2 separate regions of the Homo sapiens genome follow, and region 1 is linked to region 2. The links come from fine-mapping of genetic effects on gene expression. A gene starts in region 2. The other region holds a variant in brackets. All regions are shown on one strand. Distances are between the middles of the regions.

Region 1 (8,000 bases), 330 kb after region 2:
ACGCTGCCCTGGGGCACTCCAGCCATCTGGGAAAAGGGAGTGGCAGCCCTTGGGCAGGTGGAATGCAGATGGCCCAGCCCACCCTCCCCAAGCTTCTGAGGGCTGGAGCCAGCCGGGGAGGGCACGGCACCCACAGCCCGCAGGGAACCCCAGCCCTACGTGGGCGCTCGAAGGAGGAGCAACAGGACCAACACAACCACGATGATGGCCCAAGAGACTGGGAAGGCCGGGGAGGCCGGAAGCAGAGGGGGAGGGGGGGATGATCACGGACGAGAGGAGAGGCAGCAAGGAAATGGAACAAGATGCCCCAGACTCTGCAGAGGCATAGACCTGCATGCTCCGGCGCCTCCGTGCCACGCTGGAGGAGGGGACCGGCCACCCACAAGGCCCTACTTGGCGTGGGAACTGCTCCAATTCTCGGCTGCCTCCTGGACAGAGCTCGGATGGCAGAATGTGAGCCACAGCAGCTCGTGGCGGTGCGGGATGGTGCGGAGAAGGCATCCGACCCCCGCGCTGAGTCTGCCGGGAGCTGGACGTGAGTCCCTCAAACAGAGGCTCAGGGACGGACGGGCGCTGCTACCGAGTGGTCAGGGTGCTCTTTTTGGCCAGTGGACACTGAGGGCACAGAAACACTCGTTTCCTGGATATTTCTGTTGCTTCCGGAGGCACTGGAACTCTTCTCCTTTCTCTGCTGGTGGAAGAGGGGCTCTGTGCGAGAGGTCAGCTGCTCCAAGCTGGCTGTGAGCATGCATCACCTTCCAGAGCCTTCTGAAGTAGCTATCCACAACTCTCAATTATCCTGGTGGCTTCCAGAGCCCAAAGGCACCTCGAGAGCTCATCACCACCCACCTGGGCAGGGCTCGAACAGAGCGCCCTCATCACGGGGAAGGACAGATGGCCAGGGGGCTGACAGGACATCTTGCTATCAGAGCCCCCACAGGGGCCAGGGGACCAGATCCAGTGCTGACCCAAAGCCCAAGGACGCCACCTCGGGGGTGACTCCCAATCCCGCCCCTTCTCTCTGCTGCCCTCCAGCCACCAGCTTCTCCTTGGGAGAAGCAGAGTTCTTCTCCCACCTACAAAAAAGGCAAAAATGGAATGTGGCCAGCGGGTAACCAATGGGGGAAAAAAAAAAAATCAATGTCTGTGTTGCCATGGTGATGACGGTAGCTGACGCTGCTTCCCCACACACAGTTCTGAAACCAAGCAAGTCCAAAGAGCCACCTTGGTGTCAAGGCTGGGTCAGCATTCAGATCTTGGACATGGGGGTGGAGGGAGAGCAGAGGCCGAGGCTGCCTTCTGTCATCCACCCCCACTGTCCTGAGCCACCACTCCAACCCGCCGGCTCCAAGGATGGGCCCTGGACCAGCAACGCACCATCACGCTGGGATCAAGGACCCTCAGGCCTGCCCGGGCCTCTGGCACCAAATCTGCTCACACACTCCCAGCGTCCCAGGCAGACGGGGGCTCCCGGGTCAGCGGCCATCCACCCGGGGTGGCTGGAGTGGAGGCTGCAGAGGGCCCCTACGTGACACACAGGGGTGGAGATGAGGCTCTGCGGGGGCTGAGCTAACCCGACACCTTCTCCCCACGGGTTGAGCGACCTGGCCAAGCCCAGCTCCCACAGCTGCAGCGGGACAGGCACGCCAGGGCCTTCTCCTGCCCCCGCGTCCACTAGGAACCCCTCTGCAGCAACCCTCCCTGTGCCTCTCTCCTCCCTCCAAAGCACCTTTTGCCTCTTCCTTTGCCCAGTGTCCGCAAGGAGGTTTAAGGTCTGACGGGGCAGAGGGGTTTCTTTCCACATTTCCACCTCCCTTTTGGCCACAAGTGACCAAGGTTGCCCGGCAGAGCACATTCAATACCCAGCCCGAAGGCTGCCTGGACGTCCGCTCAGTGTGGAGGGCAGACCCAGGCCACAGCTTGGAGCAGGGCCTGTTCCTTTCTTCATGGGCAAATTTGCCTTGCAAGACCAACCTCTGGCCAGGCACGGTGGCTCGCGCCTGTAATCCCAGCACTTTGGGAGGCCGAGATAGGAGGATCACTTGAGTCCAGGAGTTCGAGACCAGCCTGGGCAACAAAGCAAGCTCTTGTCTCTACAAAAAGTTTAGAAAGTATACAGGCGTGACAGCACACACCTGTAGTCCTGGCTACTCAGAAGCTGAGGTGGGAGGATCGCTTGAGCCCAGGAGGCTGCAATGAGCTATGTATGACTGCGCCACCACACTCTAGCCTGAGTGACAGAGTGAGACTCTGTCTCCAAAAAGGGGGAAAAGACAACAACAACAACAAAAAACCAAGAAAACAAAAAACCCTCCAATCTTCCTGGGTACAACAAGTGCATCTCCAAAGACCCTGGTCACCTCTGCTGCCTGTTCAGGTCCCACGGCACAGCATCCTCCCAAGGTGCCCTGGGCATGGCTCCCACGTGACCGGCGAGACCAGAGGTGTCCACCGAGGAAGGCTGGGAGGCGAACTGAACCTTGCCTAGGAACGTACTGGCCAGACTGAGCTCGTGAGTGGACAGTCCTGGCGGGGGAGAGTCCCCCGAGTGGGCAGAGGGAGCTGCCATGGATGGAGAACCACGCCCCCCGCCAGGCTTTTCCAGGGGCCTCGCAGACTACACCTCCCGAAAAGGAAGGGGCTACTGCAGAGGCAGGGAACAGACTCGAGAACTCCCAGCAGGCGTCCTTGAAGCCAGCCCTGGACCCCAGCTGCCCAGAGTCCCATGGCATGAGCGGGGGCCGCCGAGAAGCCAGGTGGGCAGTTCAGACCGGCCGCCCCGTGGACCACTCCCCAGCCTCTCTGACCACCTTGCCAGGGGCCACTCTCCCTGTCACCCCTCCAGCACTCCATGGAGATGGCATGAGCGCCGCCCCTCGGTACTTGGATCCAGGACTATCTGTGCCCGCGTGCGTGCTCTGGCTGGGTGTGTGCACGTGTTCAGTCTCTGCCCGGGACACAGTCCAGTTGGCCCTGCAGTGATGTGACCGCCTGCATGTGACTGCTGGTAACAATTACAAAAATGCTTCCAATGTATAAACTGTACCTAGGAGACCGTCACGAATGCCCGTGGACCCACCATTCGGAGCTACCAGAAGTTGATGCTCTGCCGTTTGCCCTTCAGACGTTTAAACAAACAAGCACAGTGGGGACAGCCGGAGGACCCAGCGCATCCTTCTAAGCCCAGCCCCTGCCACCGGGATCACCCCTGGGGCTGCTGAGACCCTGTCCTGTCTGTTTCTACGGGGCCCAGTGCCAGACAAGTCGTCAAATGTGTGACTGGGGAGTGGAGGAGCCTGGAGCAGCTGGAGCTCGGCAGCGGGCACACAGGAGCATGTCTGGGACAACGGTCACAGACACTGTGGGCAAGGGAACCCACTGGCACCTCCCACAGCCAGGAACGCAAGGCTGGACAGAGACACTGGCAACCAGATATGGCCCCCCATCCTGAGAAAGACACCTCCCTGGGACCGGAGTCCCCCCAGGCCCTCCCGCAGGACTTCATGTCACAACCAAGGAGCCACCGAGGTGGCCTTCTCTGCAGTACCAGGCTTGGGGGCACCCTCCCCAGGGCAGGGAAGCGGGGACAGGGGACACAAGAGCGGAGCCACCTGAGACGGGCTCCAGTGCTGGCTCCGTCTGTGCGGCTGCTGACTGCGGGGTCCTTGGGTCGTGGGCTTTGTTTCACACTGATCCTGGGGTCAGGGATTCAGGAGCGGCTTCTGGTTTGGGCCCTGCATCGCTGCCCTCCTACAGCTGGGGCCAAAAGAACACCCGTGACCCGGATGGCACTGACCAGGGTCCTGGCCTCCGGGGACAGACCCCCTCAGACAGCTGCTCTGCAGGGGACAGAAGCCATTCAGACCTCCAGTTCCTCACGCGTGCCCGAGGGGGAGACCCCTGCCATGGGCGTGGTCTGCTCCTAACCAGCCTCGCCTATCTGTGCTCACTGATTATTGACCAGGAGGGAACATTGCTCCTGGGAGAGAGTTTCTCAGCCACTGACTCGCTCCAAACCCTACAAGATGCAAACAGGAGCAGAGGCCGCCCTGAGAGCACCGGCCGTCATCTCCCTGCGTGGCTGCGACCAGTGTCTGCCAGGCCTGACGTGCCCACCCTTCTGCCAACTGGCACCACCCAAAGTGCATGGGACCCACGTCCCCCAGGACCCCAGAGATGCAGACACCTGCCCACAGAGGCTCCTGAGCCGGCACCTGTGCCCCCAGGCCCCTCGGCCTGCGGCCAACACTGTGTGGGGCCACATCGGAGGCAGCCAGCACCTCAGCAGCTCCTGGCTTGAGGAGGAAGGCTGAGCGGCTCCTCTCTTTCCCTCCCTA[G/C]GGAGCACTGGTGACAGTACCGAGGGACGGCAGGTGCCATCAGCTGTGCCCCAACCGGGGGACAGGCAGCCCCGGCATCTCAGGGGAGAGACCAGCTGTCCTCCCTGCTCTGGCCGGCTGAGGCCTGACGCTGTGGCGTGAGCGCTCAGGGAGGGTGCCTCCCCGCTGCGATGCTGGGCCAAAGGGAGCAGCAGCAACGCCGGCAGAGGACACCTGGCCGGGCCTCAGAGCCTCTTGCTGAGTGAGACTCCAGCAGCCCCTCTGTGGGTGACGCTCGGAGCTACTGATCACCAGCAGGAAACGGCTCAGGATCAAACCACGAGCAGCCAGACCAGGGGCCCACACTTGGCTGCCGCGGCTGCAACACGGCCAATCCAATCAGGACGGCTGCTAATCTCCCTGCAGAGCTCAGCCTGCACCGCAAAGCTGTTGGCAGGCGGGCAGGGCTGGGCCATCCCCAGCCACAGCCAGAGGGGAACAAGGCCCTCCACCCGCCCACCATGAGGCCCCCCCGCCCCCTTCCCCTGCTCAGGTGCTGGAGGGTCCCCACAGAGTTCAGCAGGAGCACGCGCCTCTGCGAACAGGCGGTGGGGGCCTGAAAGATCCCCATGGGGCGGGAGGCAGGGCCCAGGGCAGCGTCCTTCCCAAGCATCCTGGTGGCTTCTTCAGGTGGCTGTCTCTGGAGCACCCCTGCCGGAGTCCTACTGTAGGGAGGGAGGAATAGTGTGGGGGGGAAGGGAGGTACAGGCAGGTCGGAGCAAGCGGTTGGGCTCTGGAAGGGAAGCCCCCAGGCTGGGCTTGGGCCAGGGGCATCTCGCTTCCCTCTCATCTGCAGGCGCCGCTGTGCTGGAGGTCCGGGACCAACCAGGGACCTCCGTGTCAGGCCCCCTCGGGGATGTAAGGTTGATCTAATTAAGGCCTTCAAATGGTGTCTGTCAGGAAGACTTGGCAGCCTACAAGGCAAGGCCCTGCCGTGAGGGCCTGAAAGCAGGTGTCATGCCCATACACTGCTGTCACAGTCACTGGCCCAAAGGGAGGCTGCGGCCTCCACCTGCAGGAGGAGGCTGGGACACATGGGCCCCTGGGTGCACTGTGCATGGAGCCGCCTGAGCCCAGAGGGGCCGTGACACAGCCTGGCCTCACAGAGAGCAGGAGGCCCTACCAGGTGAGTGACATGAGATGGTGCTTCCGAGCCACTTTGGCCAACGGGAGCCACTGGGGACAGCCCCGAAGTCCCCTTGGGGTTCACATGACCAAGGACCTTCCCTTCTGCACAGGGCCCCACGTTTCAGAGACGCAGAGATGCCGCACACACGGAGGGAGCCACTCAGTGCCTCTAAGAGGGAGGCCGACACCTGCGGGGACAGGAGGGGCACCACCTGACCTGTGGGGGCCCCAGGCCCCAGCTCTCCCAGGTGGGCATTCAGAACACCTGCCTCACTCTGGACAACGAGGCGTGCACTGCAGCCAACAGCTATGGGAAGTTTCCAGGCCACACCTTAATTCAGTGACTCAGTGACCAAAATCCAGCCCACAGTTTCAGGCAGGGACAATGCCCCCTGCCAGCTAACATCCTCATTCTGAGGCTGGCCCAACAGGGAGCTCCTGCCACTCTCCCGGGCACCTGGGGATGCCGGGCAGCTGGCAGAGGACAGGCCCAGTGCGCCCAGCAGGTACACACACGCCCTGTGATCACAAACAAGCATGCTGTGGGCACCAGCGGGTACACAGCGGCCTCTTCAAAGGACAAAAACACACCAGAGGCCTCCAGAGATGGGAAAGGGCTGAGCAAAACAGCCTGGCTCAGGTGTTCCGTGGCAGGGCCACAGAGCAGTTGGACAAGAAACACAACAGGCTCAGGGCCCCAGATAGACAGGCTGGACATGCGGGTCTGACCACACAAAGGAAGTGCAGTGCTCTCTGCTGGGGAGGGCTGCGGCCCCGCTCACTGCAATGACAGCCCCCCTCACTGAAGACAGGGCACCGTCCTGAAGAGCCGACAACTCTCTACAGGGTGATTAGACCTTAGCCTCCCTGCACAGCCAGGCCAAAGGGCAGCTACGTGACCCTCTTTTCATACAGACGGTTCTGGCACACAGTGCTAGAGCCACCTGCCCAGGTGTACACGTTGTACCAGGACCCCAGGTCACTGGGACTCTGGCCTGCTCCTCCCATCTGCCTCTCCCGTTGGCCAGCATAGACCCAGGCTCAGCCCAGCTCTGTGCGCCCAGCCTCGGGTGGGGGAGCGAGAGGGCCTGGGCCATAGGCAGCTGTCAGCAGCAAGGGGGTGGAGGGGTGTGCTCAGGAGTGCAGTCACAGGACACTGCAAACCACAGCTGTCGGTGAGGCAGACTGGACAGCTGTCCTCCACCCGCACAAAGAACCAGTGCCACGTCCACCCAGGCACCCACACGGCCCAGCGGCATGGTGAGCACCTGCCCTGCCCTCCACCCTTGGGTCTCCACACCAGCCCCTGGTGGTGCCAGCCTCCAGGGAGGTGCCCAAAACAGAGGAGGAGCCACTCACACATCTTAGCAAATTCCCCAGATTCCTGAGGCTCTCAGCTCAGGACCCTGGACCCCTGCAGGGGGCCGGGACGGGCACAGCACTGCTTCTGTGACCAGGCTGGGCCCGCCCTCCCTCGGGTCACCTGCCAGGCTTGCTCCTGGGCCACAGGGACACTGAGTGTCTACACATGCCAGGACTGGCCTACAGGACTCAGATCCAGCCGGCCACTCCAGTCTCCCCGAGCTGCCAGTCAACCCAAGCACAAAGCCCAAGAGGATGAGGAGCAGACGCCCCTGGGAAAAGTCTAACCCAGGCACTGGCTCAGGGGCTTTGAGAGCAGTGGGTGTGCCCCGGAATCACGCCTGCCGGAGCTGGAAGGGAGAAACACCATGGCGGGGATTGGAAAACCAGTCAGCCAGCAGACAGCCAAGTGTGGGTGGCTGCCGGCTAGGGGATTAGAAGGGCTGTGAGAAGCTTCCGGAACTTGGAGCTGCCACTCCATTCCCTGACTAAGCGCTTGCCATATCAAAGCAAAGCCCTGAGAGTTAACTGCAGAAACTCTTTCACTGCAGGGAAAAAACAGTCTCTGACTGAAGACGGGAGGCCCTTCCGTCTGTGAGGTCTGCAGGCCACAAAGCCCGAGGCTGCCTCCCCAGCTGTGTGCCAGACGGCCAGAGCCACAGGTACAGAAAGACCCACATCACCAAAGGCCGGCTCTGACCCAGCCACTCCTCACTCCAGGAGAGAGAACAAAGGGGCAGCCCCAGCTGCTCATTTAAAGCAAAAAAAGACTCTCTGGGCTTTCACCCCTGGGCCAGGCTCTGGTTCAGAAGCATGAAAGCTCACGCAGGCCAAGGCTGGCTCCCGGCTCCGGAGACCTGGGGCTCACTTGGAGCAGCACGCTTGGCTACAGTGAGGGGGTGCTGCCAGGACCCTCACTCTTCCCAGGAAGAACAGAGCTCAGGGCTCTGCAGGGAAAGGGGGAGCGGGCAGCATCATCCACAGTGATTAGCCGGGAGTCAGTGCAGCCGAATCCTCGTCATCCTGACGGGGCTGAAGACAGGACCTCCCCGTGAGGGCTACATAGCCCGAGGCCACCTCCCCGGCTGTGGGCACTACAGGGCCAGAGGTGCAGGTACAGAGAGACCCACAGGA
Region 2 (15,308 bases):
TTCCAAACAGGGCTTCGGCGGGGCGGGCGTGGCGGGCCACCGCCGCCGGTCCACGCGGCCCCACATTCCCGGATTCCCGTAGCTCCTTTGGGCTCGCGGCAACTTTGATGTCTAACTCTGTCACTTATGGAGCGGGACGGGTGACGTCTTCGGAAAGTAACTCTTTTCACACCTACTTAATGTTGCTAACTGTTGCAGAAACACTCCATCGTGTCATGGAGTTAATGAGGTATTTAAGAAAATGTATTTTTTTCTTTACAAAAAAATATCACATGATGAGGGAGAGGAGCCTGTGATGGGGTCTTTTCACACTAGGAAATTATCTTTTTTTTTCCTCTGCCAAGTTGGGGGTATTTTTTGGTTGTGTTTTTTGGTATTTTCTTTTTCTTTTTTTTTTTTTGAGATTGGCGGTAGGAAGCACTTTTTCAGCAGGAAAGAAGTAGTTTGCAGTTCTCCCACCAGAAGGAGCCTTCGCCTTTCTCCCACAATAACCCCAGGCTCAGAGCACCTGGTTTCCCAGGCTTCAGCAATTTACACCCCAAAGAAGACAAGAGAAGGGGCGGGAGGGGAATCTGAGCAGATTATTGAAACCAAGATGAGAAATAGTGCCTTGGTGGAGCCCTGGCCCCTGGAGAGGGGAGGCGTACAGACCAGGACAGGAGCGGGCCCAGCCAGAAGCCAGGACGGGGGGCTGTCTATGTGGGCCTCTCCCCAGGCCGGGGCTGCCTCGGATCACACACACACTCCCAGCAGAGGCGCCAGCCCCAGTGGCTCCAGGCAGTAGCACTGATGAAAAATCTTGGGTTGGTTCTTGTTGATTTCTCTTTTCTCCCCCCTAGATTTCACAGCTTTGCCTCCGGACCATCTGTATTAGAGACAAAATCTAACACTGAACTAAAAATAATGATTCCAAACATTTTAATTGCACCTTTTGGTGACAAGGTTACTGGAACAGCACTTTACCATAAAACCTGCGGCCCGAGTCTAAAGCTCCCAGCACTTTCATTTTTAGAAAAACAATGGAAGAAGCCTGGGAGCCCCATGTCCCCACCCATCAGGGCCCCTCAGACTGACATTCTGAAAGTGTTGGGTGGGGTTGGGGAAAGGCAGCCCCGGCAGCCAGCAGGAACAGCCTCAGTCCAGCCGGGGTGGCAGTGCCAGGCCAGACAGGCACAGGAAGAGCAGCCCAGCAAAAAGAGGCAGCCTCATGGAGGCCAGGGCCTCCATCCCCGATGGTTGGATTCTACTCCCAGACAGGCGGGAAGAATCCGGGTCAATTTTCCTTTCCAAGGGGCAGTCAGCAGAGGGAGGGGCGGGCTGGCTGCAGCTGTGGCCTGCGGACTGAAGCCATCCAGGAAAATGGGAAGCAAGGCAGCCAAACCAGCCATGTGGAAGTCCGCACACAAGACGCAAAAAAATTGTTTAACGTAATTATGCTTTTTTCTCTCTAAACTAGATCATATATAGACACAGACCAAAGCAAAGTGATCTGGGGTATAATTCTTTTTTTAAAAAAATACATGCAGCTAAATTTTAAAAACCAATACAATATTCTGGCTCTTAACAATTTCAAAAGGCTTTCTTTCAGCTACAGATGCTTCTAGCTGGATGTCTGCATGACCAAGTTGCCCATCACAAATGGGTTGAACATCTCCGAGCACAAGCGTTCTCTTCGGTCCGCAGGGGGGAGGAAATGGGGCCTCCAGGGACGGGGACACATGACCCTTCAGACCCTGAAAGAGGCAGCCCCGAGGGGCCTCCAGCGCCCTCTAGAGCACCCTGCGCTTGGGGAGGCTGGGAGGACCTGGGATCAAGAAGAAGCAGGGAGGACACAGGCCAGGCCAGAGCCCAGAGCCGTTTCTCACAGCCCTCCGGGGCCTACACGCCAAGAACCACGTGGCCAAACTTAGAATGAGCAAGACAAAGGGCTAGGCCACCCGACCAGGCGCCCACCTACCCGGGTGCTGCCTAGACCTGGAAGTAAGGGCAGAAGGGGGAGAATGCAGCTGGCCTGGACCTGGCCAGGATGTGAGCTGGGGCATGGGGTCAGGGAGAGTGCTGACCTGACCTGATGGGGAATTTGGCCTTGCCTCCCGGAGGGGACAGCCCCAGCCTGCCTGTGCACCAACATGCAAGCCTCAGTGTCAGGGGCCCCTGTCTCTGTCGTGCTGTTACTTGCCAGGCTGGAGGGCACGGTACAGTGGAGGTGGGGTGCACACAATCCCCCTACCCCCAGTGGGGGCCACCAGCCTTCAGCCAGAAGAGGGGCTGGTGGGGAGGCTGGCGAGCTGTCCCTTCTGCCAGGGCGGCCCCAGCCTCAGCGCCCCGTGCACCTGAGCCGGGTGGGCAGCAGCTCCCATGCAGGGGCAGGAAGACAAGCTTGATAACCACAGGGACAGCAGAAGAGATATTTTTAAATCACCCATCGCTCAGGCAAGTGCTTTTTCTCCTTCTCTTTCCAGTTACAAATCTAGAGGAGAAAAAAGAAAGGGAGAAAAAGAAGGAAGGGCAACAGAGAGAAAAGGGCAGCCTCGCCAAAGGCCCAGGCAGGGAGGGAAGCGGGTGTGGGCCAACCCGGGAAGTGCTGGGGAGACCCCTCCACTGGGCGGCTCCCCCATTCCAATCTCCTGGCGCTGCAAATGCTGGAAGCCCGTTAGCAATTAAGCAATTTCAAGTTTGTTTTTTTCTAGAAAATGTACGTTTTTCTTTGAGTGCCCTCCCTTTTTCCGACGTTTTCCTTTCTAGCCCCGTCTCTGCCATCCGTTTTAATCCACACACTAATTGTAATCCCATTAAAGCAGATATAATTTTATTAGTATTCACAGTTCATCAAGCTACCAATAATAACTGTTACTGCCAATTTTGTTTTTAAAAGCGACAAACATTTCTGATGTTTAGAACAAACTGTAAACAAAAGCCACCCATGTACCAGGGTGACCCGGCGGGTCCCTAGCGCAGCCCTGCGCGCTTCCCCCGAATCTACCCGCGCCGCCTGGTGACCTCTAGGGCTTCAGGCGTGGTAGCTGCCCCTACCCTGACCTCCCTCGACACTCATATCAAAGCCACCGGGAAGAGGGCTGCCCTGGAGGCCTGGGCCCGCTCTGCCAAGGACTGATCCTCTCGGGCAGGGAGTCAGAGGGGACCGCCCGAGAGGATCCGTCCCTGCGAGGCCCAGCACGGCGCCCCACGCTCTCCTCTTGGAGCAAATCCGCCTCGCTCTCCTCTTGGAGCAAATCCGCCGCACTCTCGCCTGCACCGAAATCCTGAGCGCCGCCCCGCGCCACCCCCAGCCCGCGCCCGCGCTGCCCTCCTCCCCGGGCCGCAGGCTGAGAGGCTGGGCCGCACTCTGGCCACGCTTTGTCCGGCTTTAGCGGGATACCAGAGGCACTCGTTAAGGCAAATGCATCCCTGCAAACCCATTCTCGCCCTGACACTTTAAGGCTTTATATAGAAACAGGATTTGCTCGTCTTACACCAGCAGTCCCTATTAACGCTCGCCCGGCGCACACACCACTCTAATCCGCGAGGCCGCGGCGTACCCTGGTCCCCTCCCCCCGCCACAACAGCCGTTTTGTTTCCGCAGAAAGCGCCTCGTTGTCCCAGCCCCGGAACGTCTTAGGGAGGTGAATGCAGAATGCAGAAAAGAGGTTTCCGTGGAATTTAGATCTGCAGGAGGGGGCGGGGGAGGGTGGCGAGGCGCGGAAAGGCTTTAATTTCAGCCGGCTCCGGGGCTGCCCCTCCGAGACCCCCGGGGGAGGGTGGCCAGGGAAGGGCCTCTCTAAGCCGCGGCGACGCAGCTTGGGGGGCTGGCGGGACGCGCGGCCCCGCTCAGCGCCCAGGCAGCCACCGCGGCCGGGGCCGGGAAATGAAACCAAAGCTTCTCTGCTCCCGGGAGCGGAGGGGTGGGCGCCCTGTTCCGCTCTCGAACGCTCCCGTCCCGCGCCCGCCCCGGCCGAGCACTGACCTGTGTGCGAAGCCATGGGCAACGGCGACGGGAAGTACTTTCCCGGCTGGAAGTGTGCGGGGGGCTGCGCGGCGGGCCCAGCCGGGGCGAGACGCGCGGCGGCAGCGGCGCTGCGGTGGCCCAGGCTCCCGCGCTCCGACAGCAGATGCGGCGGCGGCGCAAAGTCGCGGCCATCCATGCCGGGCCCCGGCCCCGGTCCGCCGCCGCTTCCTCGGAGCAGCGCGGCCGGGGCCCGGGGGCGGCTCGGCGCGCGGGCGGCGCAGAGGCGGCGGCGTCCGGGGTCACAGGCGGTGGTGGCGGCGGGGCCGGTCAGCACGCGGGAGGACTGGGCTTCTCGGCGGGCGGCCGCGCACCGAGCCAGCGGCCGCTGTGCGGGTCCATGGTCTGTGGAGGCAAAAGCAGAGGAGACACGGGTGACTGGGGGGCTCGGCTCGCCCGGGGGTCCCCGCCCCGCCCGCTCACCCACTCCCCCCACCCCCCACCCCCGCCGGCCCGAGCGAGCGGCGGCCAGGCCGGGTGGCGGGGCCGGGGCGCTCGGTGTCTCCCCGCCGCACGCGCGCGCAGCCCAGCACCCGGGGCCCCGCGCGCGCACGCACCGTCCCGGCCACGCTTGGCCCGGGGCAGCCGGGGGAACCCAGCCGCACTGCTCGCCGCCTCCCGTTCTCGTCCCCGCGGGTCCCTGCAGCTAGGGCGCCGCGGCGAAGAGGCTGCTGGCTCTGCTGGGTGATAAAAACCCAAATCTGCGAAGCCATCACGCACACTCGCACACACACACACACACACACACACTCACACGCACACCCTCTCCCCTCCCCCGCTGCCCAAAGGTGTCTCGGAGGAAAAGGCCTGGGGTCCACACTAGCTCTCCCCCTCTCCCCACCTCATGCCGAGGTCCAGCTTTTACTGCATTCCGCTTAACCGAATAACCATGCTAATTAAGCGAGTAATTTTATTGATTGTAACTCAAGAGTTTTTTTTTTTTTTAATAACCTTCCTTTTCTCCCCACTCCCATCCCCCTCATGCATCTTTCGGCCCATTCTTCTGAATCCACCGTGGTCCCCCCTCCCCAGCCCCAGCGGGACCAGCTCCTGTCCCCAGCATCGCGCTAGGACCCCAGGCCGGCTCCTCAGAGCCCCGGAGGCCCGCAACCGCCACCGGCATCACCTGGGCCGCCACGCCGCAGTGCCCGGCCTGCTGTCCCGGAGCCGGGAGCTTCCTGTTGAGGCTGTAACAATCACCCCGCCCCCCAATCAAATTCGCCCAGGATCTTCCTCTGCGGATTGGGGGCTTGGGGGTGTGTGTGGGGGGGGTGCTTTCAGAGTCAGAATGCTCTCTCTCAACGGCCCAAATCGGCCCTGGGATTTCTTCCTTCAGCGCCTGCCGGGGACCGCGAGCAGAGGCCGGTCTCCGCTCCGGGCAGTACCGGGCGGCCTGGGTACGCGGGGTCTGCGGCGCCCAGCTCGGCCCTCTAGCCGGGGAAGGTGGGCCCGGCCCAGCACAACCTTCTGCCAGCAGACCCTGCCCGGACCTCGGCCACCTAAAATAACCCTCACCTCCATTTTCTTCCACCCCCACCCAACGCGGAGCATCCACTCAGGCGAAATTGGGGACAATTTTAGACTCTGGGTGCGGAGGGTCGGAGCCAGTGATAGAAGCTGCGTGCACCACCGTGCTCCCAGGCGTCCCTCCGAAGGCGCTCCCTGGACGCACTTCACATATTACTCCTCATCTTCTAAATACGTATTGTTTTAATGTTTATCACCTCCAACAAAAGGGAGATGGATAGGCTTGATATTCCTAATTAGGAACTTTGCGGAAAACCTTGTGTTTTTGTAGCCATTCCACCATGACAACAAAGCGATTAAGATGTTTTCCATCTACTGAATACCTTTTTAAATTGCGATATTTTATGGTCCGGGTTCTAAAACGTCTTATTTGCAGACTATTTTGTGTTTGATTTAATCTATAACCGAAAACATAATGTATTAAGTGAATACATATTTGCTCAGCTGATAAGCTTTTTTAATATTTATTCGGAGAGCTTTTGCATTGTAAATAAATGGGTCTACACAAAGAGTTCTCTTTGTCTGGCAACTACATACAAAGGCGTTTGGGGCTCCCTTCCCTCTGGGGATCGCCAGCTCTCTCCCCGGGTCTAACAAATAGCTCGGCTCCCAAGCCCCGATCCCGGCCTGCAAAGCGAGCGCCCGGCCGCCAGGGCCCGGAGAGTGCTCTGGCGAGGGGGCTGCGAGCGCAGGGGTCAGGGGAGGGGCTGCCCGGGCTGGACTAGGGACGTGGGGGCCCCCAGCCCCGGCCGGCGCCTCCCGAGCCCCGGAGGGCGCCGGGCGGGACAAAGGGAAAGAAGGAAAGGGAGGGAGGTCAGAAACCTGCAGCTTCAAAGGCGCCGAAGGCCGGAGAGGGGCCGGGGGCTGCGCACGCGGGGGTGCCAGGCTTCCTGGCGGCCTCCAGGGAGTCGTGTGTGCTGTGCTTTTGTTTTGTGGTTGTTTTTTTTTTTTTTTTTCTCTCCAATAAGAAATTTCAAAGTTGAGAAAGCGCGAGCTGCCGGCGATTCTCGGGACGCGGGCTCGGCTACGAAGCAACAATTTTAATCTCCCACCCCCTGCGGGCGGATCGCAGGCCCGATTGTTCCTTTCTCACCAGCCTGCTCGACTTTTTAAGCAAACAGGAGGTGGATTACTGTCGCCTGCCTGCGCCGCCACGGCTCTGACCGGATTGGAGAGAGCTTTTCTTTGTGTTCTCTCCTCCCGGGGAGAGGCCGCGCCGCGCCTCCGCGTCTGCCCGCGCCGGGCTTCGGGGGCCTGGGGAGCCTGAGGCGGCCAGGAAGTGGGGCGAGGAAGGGCGGCCACACGGCCCGAGCTGGGAGTCCCACAGTCCCGCAGCGGCGACGCCGCCACCCGCCGAGTGCCGAGGCCCGGGGCCCACTCCCAGCCCAGCTCCAGGAGAGGCCGCGCCGGAGGACCGCGAGGACGGCGCCGCAGCGCCAGGTCGGGCTGAGGTAAGGGAGGAAATGGAGCGAAAAGTGGCGGCGGGCAGAGGGCCCCGGGCGGGCGGAGAATCGCTGACGAGGGCATTTCGGAAGGAACTGAACCTAGGAGCACAGGGCTCCCTCCCGGGAAGGCAGGGCGTGACCCTGGAGCCGCCGGTCCCTCTTGCCGCGGCCCCAGGCGTGGCTGGCGCGCTCCAGGATCTGGAGCTTCTACAAGTTTGCTTTGTTTCCTGCTTTTGCATCTAAAAACCCGCTCTCTCCTCGCCCGCCTGCCGGAGACCAGGACTCTGGCCCGTCTGCCTCCCTCCGGCGTCGTCTCCGGGAGCGCGGGCGCGGTGGGGCCTGCAGGCCGGGCTGGGACCAGGCGCGCCTTGGGGCGCGAGTGGCTCGGCCGTCGCCGCAGAACCCGCTCCCTGCGAAACAGCCGCACCCGCTCCCTGGGAGAGTCATGAGAACTGGGGTCGCGCCTGACCCCCGCGCCCGAAGAAAACCAGCCCGCGGACCCCGCCACACGGGCCGTGACCCGAGCCCCGCGCGCCGTCCCGAACGCGCGCGGTGAAAACGCCCCGCTGCGCCGGCCTTGCTCGGTCCCCCTCCTCCACCCCCACTTCTCCGGAAAAAAAAAATTCTGAATTGGGAACGAAGACCCGAAAAACTCGCCATGACCATTCCCCTCCCCGGCCCCTAGCTTCGGCCCGGAAGGCCCCTCAGGGCAGCGGCCGTGGGTACCACGACCCGGCCAGTTCCCCTCGCCGCGGACCGACCGGGCAGGGCCAACCCAGGACTGTTCCGGGGAGGGGAGCAGGGTAGGGGAGCGAATGTTGGGGTTCGTTCGTGGGTCACCCAGAACTGGGCGCACGCTGGCGGCGCCCGGACTTCGCCTACTGTCCGCCCGGTGCCACCCGCGCGGCTCGCGCCAGACGCAGCCTGGCGGTCCCTGTCCTGTCTTCGAGTATTTGTTTTTAATGCTGGGTGTCGATCGAGACAACAAGCGCTCAGAGCAAAGCAAGGATGCATTACGGGGGTAATTTTAAACCGATCGATAAGATTTTTCAGAGAAAAAAAAATCGCTCATAGTCCATATTTTTTAAGAAAAAAAAAAGCCTCAACATTTTAACGGATTTTGTTAAAAGGGAAGATATATACTTCTTAACATCACAATCCTGAATTTCTTTTGCTAAAAAAAATGTAAAACCCCAAAGCCAGAATAAAAAATAAAATAATAATAAAAATACAAAAACAAAAAAAAAATGAAAGCAATTTCAGTTACTTACTGGAGGCTGTTTCCTGGATACAACTGAATGCAATACAATTAAATCAGTAAATGTGACTTTGTTTTGTATTCCTATTGGTATTTTCAATGTGCTGACTGTTGCACTGTAAATGCACCGCTTCCACAACAACGACTCTAGCGAGCCCATCCAGAGCGGCTCTCAAACCTGCAGCCTGGCGCGGCGAGCCACGGGCCCTGCATACTAATAAGCTCGTGCCACTCAGCCCGGAACAGCCAGCGCGCTGATTGGCCGCGCAGCCCTCCACGGCCGGGAGCTCGTGCCACTCATTCGGCGTAAACAGGCCTCCCAATAGGCTGGCGCCGGGCCAGGGAACTGCCAATCAGGAAGCAGCGGGGCTACTACCAAGCCCGATGGCGCCTAATTCAAGCCCGGCGACTGCGCAGCTCCTCTGCGCAGATCATTGCTGCTGAATGGGAATGTGGTGGCGCAGGGCGGGAGAGGGAGCTGGAGCGAGCGAGTGCGCGTGTCCCGGCGGAGGGGGAGGCGTAGACACAGACACAGACACACACACACACATATATGTTTAATCCAGCAGGTCTAACGTTTGGCTTCTGCCGCACAGAAGGCCAAGGGAAGAAACACCACCACCCCTTAAAAGTAGCTGCTTTTTCTCCCTGGAATCTGTCTGGCAGGTGGCAGGTAGGCCAGACCTCCAAGCCCAGAGGCCTCCCCAGGTTGCCTGGCCCATCTACCGCTCTGAAGCTGCTGCCTGCCCGGACCCGAGCTCGCGGATGCACGCACGCACGCCCGCTGCTTGGGCAGCAAAAGCTTTGAATAGCCCGTCCGGCTCTCTCCTCCCCATGACCTGGGGATCAGACCCTGGGAAGTGAGTTCTGAGTCTCCAGCCGTCTACATTACTGGCTCTCAATTTTATCTCCCTCTGCCACACTTTGCAACAGAGCAGCTACTAAAATGAAAATCAGGGATTTATTGAGAAGACAAGGATTGCCCTTTCTTCATCTACACCTAGATTTAGAAAATATTTTCAGTTTGGTAATGGGGGAAGCGGGTATGGTGTGGTAAACCATGTATAGTATTTCTCAATGCTGCTCCCTGTCTGCCTATCTGCTAAATCCTCACTCCAACTAAAGCAAGCCACTGAACAATTTTTATCGTAATCAGATGCAAACCACTTCTAAAATATTCCGCAAACAAATATTTCTGTTAGAATTTGGTTTCCCACCCAAATGCTATTTATTCTCAGGGAGTCGAGGTGATGTCTTAGTGGCGATGGATACATTTATTTTTGCTCCTCTTTCTCCATGTGAATCTCTGCCTCCCCCTCTGGGGGAAAAAAGGATATTTAAACTAGGAGCCAACTGACAGATTCACACGCATTCGAAATTCTCCACCGTCTCATTCCGGCAGGGACACGAAAGAGTTAAACTCAAAGCCTGTTGTCTCTCTGTTTCCCCGCCCCCACTCCCGCTCCCGCGGGACCGCTGGGATTGGTTGGCACTCCGCCAGTGGACTGTCCATCACCGAGTGTAAACAAGGCGCTGATTGGCTGTTGTCCAGTCCGCACTGGGCCTCCTGAAAAAAGCAATTACTGGCTCCGCGGTTTCAAGGCGGCCCAAGGCCGCTTGATGAAAGGAGATAAGCTGGGGACCGTTTCCAGGATCCCCGCGGGCCGACCGGGGCAGCCCGGGAGCCGAGGTGCGGCGGAGAGCCCGCGGATCAAAGGAATCTGGAGAGAAAGGGGAAGCGGGCGGCCGGCCCCGGCCGGCCTTCCCCCCCGCAGGCCACGCCGACCTGGGGTGGGGGGCTGCGGGCCGCGGGCGGGGACTCCGGGATTTCCCGCCTGCCTGAGTCGGGGCCTACGCCGGCGCCCGCTTCGGGCGGCTCGGCCCGGAGGGGAGCTCCGGAGAGCCCGGGGCTCGCAGGTAAGCACCGGCGCTCCGCGGGCCGGGCCGGGGACGCAGGACAAGGCGCGGGGCCCACCCCGGCTGGCTCGGGAGTGGCGGTCGCGCGGGCCCGGCTCCCGTCTCCGGCGTCTCCCGGCTCCGGCGGCCGGGACCCCCCGCGGCCGAGCCCCTGGCCAGGCCCCAGGCCGGCGCCTTCGGAAGCGACGTCTGGCGGGCCGCGGGGCACGAGGGGGAGAGCCGGGAAGCGTAAATCCCCGAAGCGCGCGGAGATCCGATTAGCGCGCGGCTATTCATTAGGCTGGGGGCGATTGAATTAGGTCCCTGGGCGCGGTCGCCGGCTGGGGGTGTGTGGCGCCGACCCCCGGGCTCTTGCCGTGGCCTCGGGAGGCTGGAGCAGCGAGCAGCGGCCCCAGCGAGTGTGTCGGGGAAGCGGGTGCCTCCGGGTCCCGGCCCCGCGGGTGCAGGCGGAGGCTGCCCGCTTCCCGCGTACACCGAGGACGGCCGGCCCGGCTCCGGAGAAATGGCGCTTGAGAAAGGAGGGGAGGGGAAGGTTCCCGGACCCTGGGCAGGGACCCGTCGCCGGGGACCCGCGGAGCCCTCCGGGGATGGAGGAGGCGCGAGCTGGAAGCGGCGCGCGAGCCCGAGCGCGGGGCTAACACCGTGGGGCCCAGTCTCTCCTGGCTCGGGTAAGTGGACGCGCCCCGAGGCCCCGGGTCCACGCAGGGCGCCCCTCGCAGACGGCGCATTTCCTACTCTCCTAAGGAACCGAGTTCCCATCACTGCCTCCGATGAGCCTGTTTCCGGATCAGGAACCTTTTTCAAGTTAATTTTTAAAGCCTCATTTGAATTTTTTAATATAGGAAAATACGTATACGAGAAAAATCTTGGATGCAACAAAAAGAACACCGTGGCCACCCGTGGTGTCCCAGAAGTTGCTCTGAGCTCCTCGCATCAGGGCAGGTGCTCCACCTCTAACCGCCCTGTGGGGGAACGGGAGGCCCCAAGCCCCTGGGAGTCCTGGTCTCCTCTAGAGTGTGTTGGAAGGACAGCCGCTGGAAAGGCCCCTCAGAGCCCCTAAACCAGCCTCCCCTCCCCCGTGGGCAGATTGTTCGAGGGTCCTGGAGCCTGAATGATGGGCCCTCGGCTTGCCCACCCCCATCCCCAGTCATCAATCACCATTTGAGAAATGCCCACTGCCAGGGACATGGGAGGGCAGAGGGTAGCTCGCGGGTGCGTGGCCCCTATCTCCTCAAGCTGGTTTAGACCCTTCTGGCTCAGCCTCACCAGATTCCTAGGATGAGCACTGGCTTCAAATCCCCCAAGTGCTGGTCCCTTCGTGTCCCCGAAAGAGGCTGCTCGCGTGGGCAAAGGCCCCGAGGCGTCGAGTGCGCCTTCCAGGGCAGTGCGGAAGCTCCCTGCCCTCCTCCTTCCTCCCCACTTCTGCCTCCTCCTCCCCCAGTGTTCACTTGAAGCAAATTCTAGTGGGCTTTTTTTTTTTCAATACTGTTTCAAAACAGTTGTTACAGCAAATAACTGCAGACGGGTCTGCTGGACGCGGTGGAGAGGGGCTGGCAGCTGCCCAGCACAGGCGCCTGGCCGCTGGGCAGCTCCCGCAATACCAAAATAAGCTCCCGAGTTCCCCTGGAAGACTTGGGCCGCCGGGAGCTCAGGCTGGCGATCTGCTCAGAGGAAACCTCCCTACTTTCCTTTTTTACTCTTCCTGCTGTCCAGAGCTAACAAATGTTTTTAATTTCAGAGGAACATGGTGTGGGGATCTGCAGACTTGCCTTCCACTGGGGAGAGGGCCAGCGAGGGGACAGAGGGGGAGGAAAGGAGAGGGGATAATAGACCCGAGGTCAGTGTTGATGCTGGAGGGCCCAGGTCTCTGAAGTTCCTGCAGCTTTGCAGGTGAGCGGGCTGCAAGTGAGGCTAGGCCTGTGGACACCCAGTGGGGCCTGGAACAGTGCCAGGAGTGGCCTTGAACCCCACCTTGATCCCTCTCCAGCAGGATCTGGAGTCACTTCCATGGGCCTGGCATACACCACTCCAGATTTGCCCTCTGGCCTGGGGAGCAGATAACCCCCCGCCCCACATAACCAGCTGCGCTCCTACACCTAGCAGGCCGGCTCACATCACCCTTTAACGCACACTATATTCACACACACACTTGTGCACAGTCTTGAATGTGTGCCCACACATCTGCCTGCACACACTCATGTGCCCACATGTGAATCACTTGGAAGTGTACACAAAACCAAACCCACAGCACAGATGGGCAGACAGGTGAGCCTCGTGCAGCATGTGACACTCCCACATGCACAAGACATGTGTGCAGAGGCATATCACACACGCAGAAGCACTCCCGAGAACTGCCTTCTCCCTTTCAGCCTAGGGGCCCCTGTTCCCCCACAACCGGGCCCAGCCCTGGAGCCCCCTCCAGCACTCCTCTCCCACCCCCACGCTCCCCAAGAGCAGCAGATGTAGGTCTCCCGGCTCCCAAACCTCTGAGATGCTGCTCTGTCTGAAATCATCATATAAATAATCATTTTTTAATACAAGGGGGTGGGGGTGTCAGGCAAGTTCCATGAAATTGTGAATTAGCCGCTGCTCCAAATAAATGCCTGCTTCGGCCCGAGAGCAGCCGCGCTGCGCCCGCTGCGCCCCCAATAATCGTGTGTTGGGTATCTCTCCATTGTTCCCTGGGCCATTAGTCAAAGGGCAAATTAGAAACAATTTCTTGACGACAAAAATTGACTCTTAATTCTTCCCACCAGAGGCGCAGGGGGACAAGTCCAGAGGCCAGGCCTGAGGCTGGGGCTGGCGGCAGGAGGGGTAGGCGGGGTAGAGGTGGGGTAGAGGTGGGGGATCTAAGATGGTTCACAGCACAGAGACCTCCCTCAACTGGAGGGCAGCAGCAGCTCACCCCCACCCCAGAATCAGTGTTCCAGAGGACAGCTGGGGGCAGGGGGTTAGGAACAATCCCACTCCCTCCTGGAAGAGGTCCTGACCCCCCACCCCACCCATCTGCCTGTACGGGTCCCTCTGCTATCGACTGGGGCGAGTTCTTTTCATGAGGGCCTTGCCTGGTGCCTGGAGGGAACAGGGTGTGGGGGAAAGGTCTGTGTGTTCCCCCCTCACCTCCCCTGCTCAGCGGTGTGGCCTCTGGCTCTGGGGAGGATCGGGAAGCCCCAGGGTCCGTGCCTTGGAGTGGGGGGACAGCCTTTTCTCTGCCACAGCTTCTGCCTTTGGAGGCTTACCCTTCCTAGGAGCAGAACTGTTGTGGAGGGGAAGAGGACGGCGAAGGTTCCGAAGGGAAGGGGGCTGCCCCCACTGAAAACGAAGCTTCCAGTCACAGCCCCTTCATTATTTATCAGGACCCAGGGGATGAGGTGGCAGGGGAGGGGGCTGCATGGAGGGAGTGCCCTCACCCTCGTCCCCAGCGCCTGCCCCCTCCCGACCAGGCCTGGGCTGAGGCCCAGGGTAAGGGGGCTGAGGCAGGCCACAGAGGAGCAAGACTTGTCAGGGGCCAGACCTGGGTAGGAGGATTGTCCTCCAGGCACACACGGCCCCCAGCCCCCCAGCCTGTCGAACTGGGCTCTCCCAGAAGGTCCCCGGCTCCAGCCCAAGCAGGGAGCCAGGTTGGGGGTGTGGGAAGGCAGAAGTCCCAGGGATCCTGGGGGAGGCTCAGGTTGTACCTGAAGGCCACAGTCTCCTCGACAGACCTCGGACGAGGTTGTAAGTGTTTTAAAGAAACTAGAGCAGCAGAGAAGAGAGACTCAGAAGCCCGTGGCACGGCTTTCTCGGCGTCCCCTCCAGCGAGGGGGTCTCCATTGCTGCAGTTGCCGGTTTTGTCCAACCAGGTCAGGAGGCTGCCCGGCCCCCTCCCCACTCTCAAAGTTGCTTGTTAAACACAGAGTCGTAATTTGTGGCTAAATATAACTAGTGTGTTCTCACGGAAAGTATAATTCAGGGTGCTCATTGTATGAGGTTATCAACAAGACCCATCTGGGTTAAATTAAAGTGATTTTCATAAAGGGCAGAAGCGCCCCTTTGCCTGGTTTCCCCTGCCTTTTTATTAGTGACAGTGTTATTGTTGCAATTATTAGAGGGGATCAAGGAAGGTGGGAGTTGCCAGGGACCCCCAGGCTGAGGAGGGAGCCTCCCAGCCCCCCTCCACTCACCATTGTCCTGCTGCCCCTCCAGCCCCCTGGTCACTGTCACCTCTGCGGCTGGAGGGCTGGAGAAAGGCCCAGGAGCCCAGGGAACCTCCACCATGCCAGGCTGCCTTCCCTAAAGGCCGGCTCCTTCCCCCCAGGCAGCCAGTCTGGGGGTGGACCTGGAGGGGCAGGGTTCTCTGGGAATCTCTGGGCCAAGGGATGCGCTTTGGGGATCTGCTGGAATAAAGAGTAATCGGTTTTCCTTACAGGAGGTTGACCCGAAACAGCCCTCCGTCTTCCTGCCCATGAGGATGAGGACAGGAAGCCAGACCCGGGAGAGAAAGCCCAGATCAGACAGATGGGGGTTGGGAGGGCCTAGTGGCTGAAACTGCCCTGCTTGGGGACAATGCTCAGGCAGGACCAATCCAAACGAGGGCACTGCTTATGTGGTCCTTCCGGAGCATCCTCCAAGGCAGAGCCTGGCTTCGGGCCCTCCCTGCAAGGACACCTGCCTCCACTCCCTGCCAGACCAGGCCTGGCTGCAGAGGCGGAGGGGCGGCAGGGCTGCCTGTCTCCACTGTTTGGCGGTGTTTACACGTGTCGCTGTCAGGGTGTCTGGACAGTGGGGGTCGGGGGCCTCCCGGGCCCAGACTTCCCCAGGCCTATTCTCACACTGGTGAGAGGGCCCTAGGGGAAGGGTGTGGGCTGGGTGGCGGGGCCAGGCCAGCTGAGACCTACAGGACCGTGGAGCATTTAGGTCTCCCACCCAACTCCACCCGGTCCTCTGAGCATCAGTTACAGAGCCCAGGCAGCAGGAGGGCAGGGCCCAGCCCCTTATCACCCATCCTCAAGGCAGGCAGGAACCCTGAAGGCAGCTTCCACCAGGGGTTCCCTTAGCCCCCACCCTCCAAAAGCCCCAGACCCTGCCAGGCCTCACCCTGCCAGCATCGTGGCCCCAGCTGACGGCTCCCAAGGGCAGGTGCTGGCAACACAAGCAGGAGCCCTCGGGGCATCCCGCA

Direction of the effects. Positions count from the first base shown, and alleles are read on the strand shown. Sizes are in standard deviations (SD) of each study's normalised expression.
In carriers of allele C in region 1, the expression in anterior cingulate cortex of the gene that starts at base 8,425 in region 2 tends to be higher than with G alone (moderate effect, 0.70 SD a copy in GTEx).

Evidence for each region.
Region 1: its variant is fine-mapped to the expression of BAHCC1 in anterior cingulate cortex (GTEx, PIP above 0.99).

What each region holds. Positions count from the first base shown.
Region 1 is chr17:81,064,237-81,072,236 of GRCh38, reverse strand. All of the region lies in intron 3 of BAIAP2 (BAR/IMD domain containing adaptor protein 2), which reads right to left. Among named protein-coding and RNA genes, the nearest start is that of BAIAP2, 33 kb to the right of the region's middle. RefSeq lists an enhancer at 7,087-7,693. The variant G/C (reference allele first, on the strand shown) is at 4,338.
Region 2 is chr17:81,388,574-81,403,881 of GRCh38, reverse strand. It overlaps BAHCC1 (BAH domain and coiled-coil containing 1), which reads right to left and starts at 8,425. Exons shown (of 28, transcript NM_001377448.1): 1 at 8,247-8,425; 2 at 3,965-4,348. The coding sequence starts at 4,142. It overlaps MIR4740 (microRNA 4740), which reads left to right and starts at 3,104; the gene lies at 3,104-3,166. RefSeq lists enhancers at 1,086-1,611, 1,911-2,090, 6,470-7,078, 7,079-7,687, 9,771-10,328 and 3 more and a silencer at 9,713-9,982.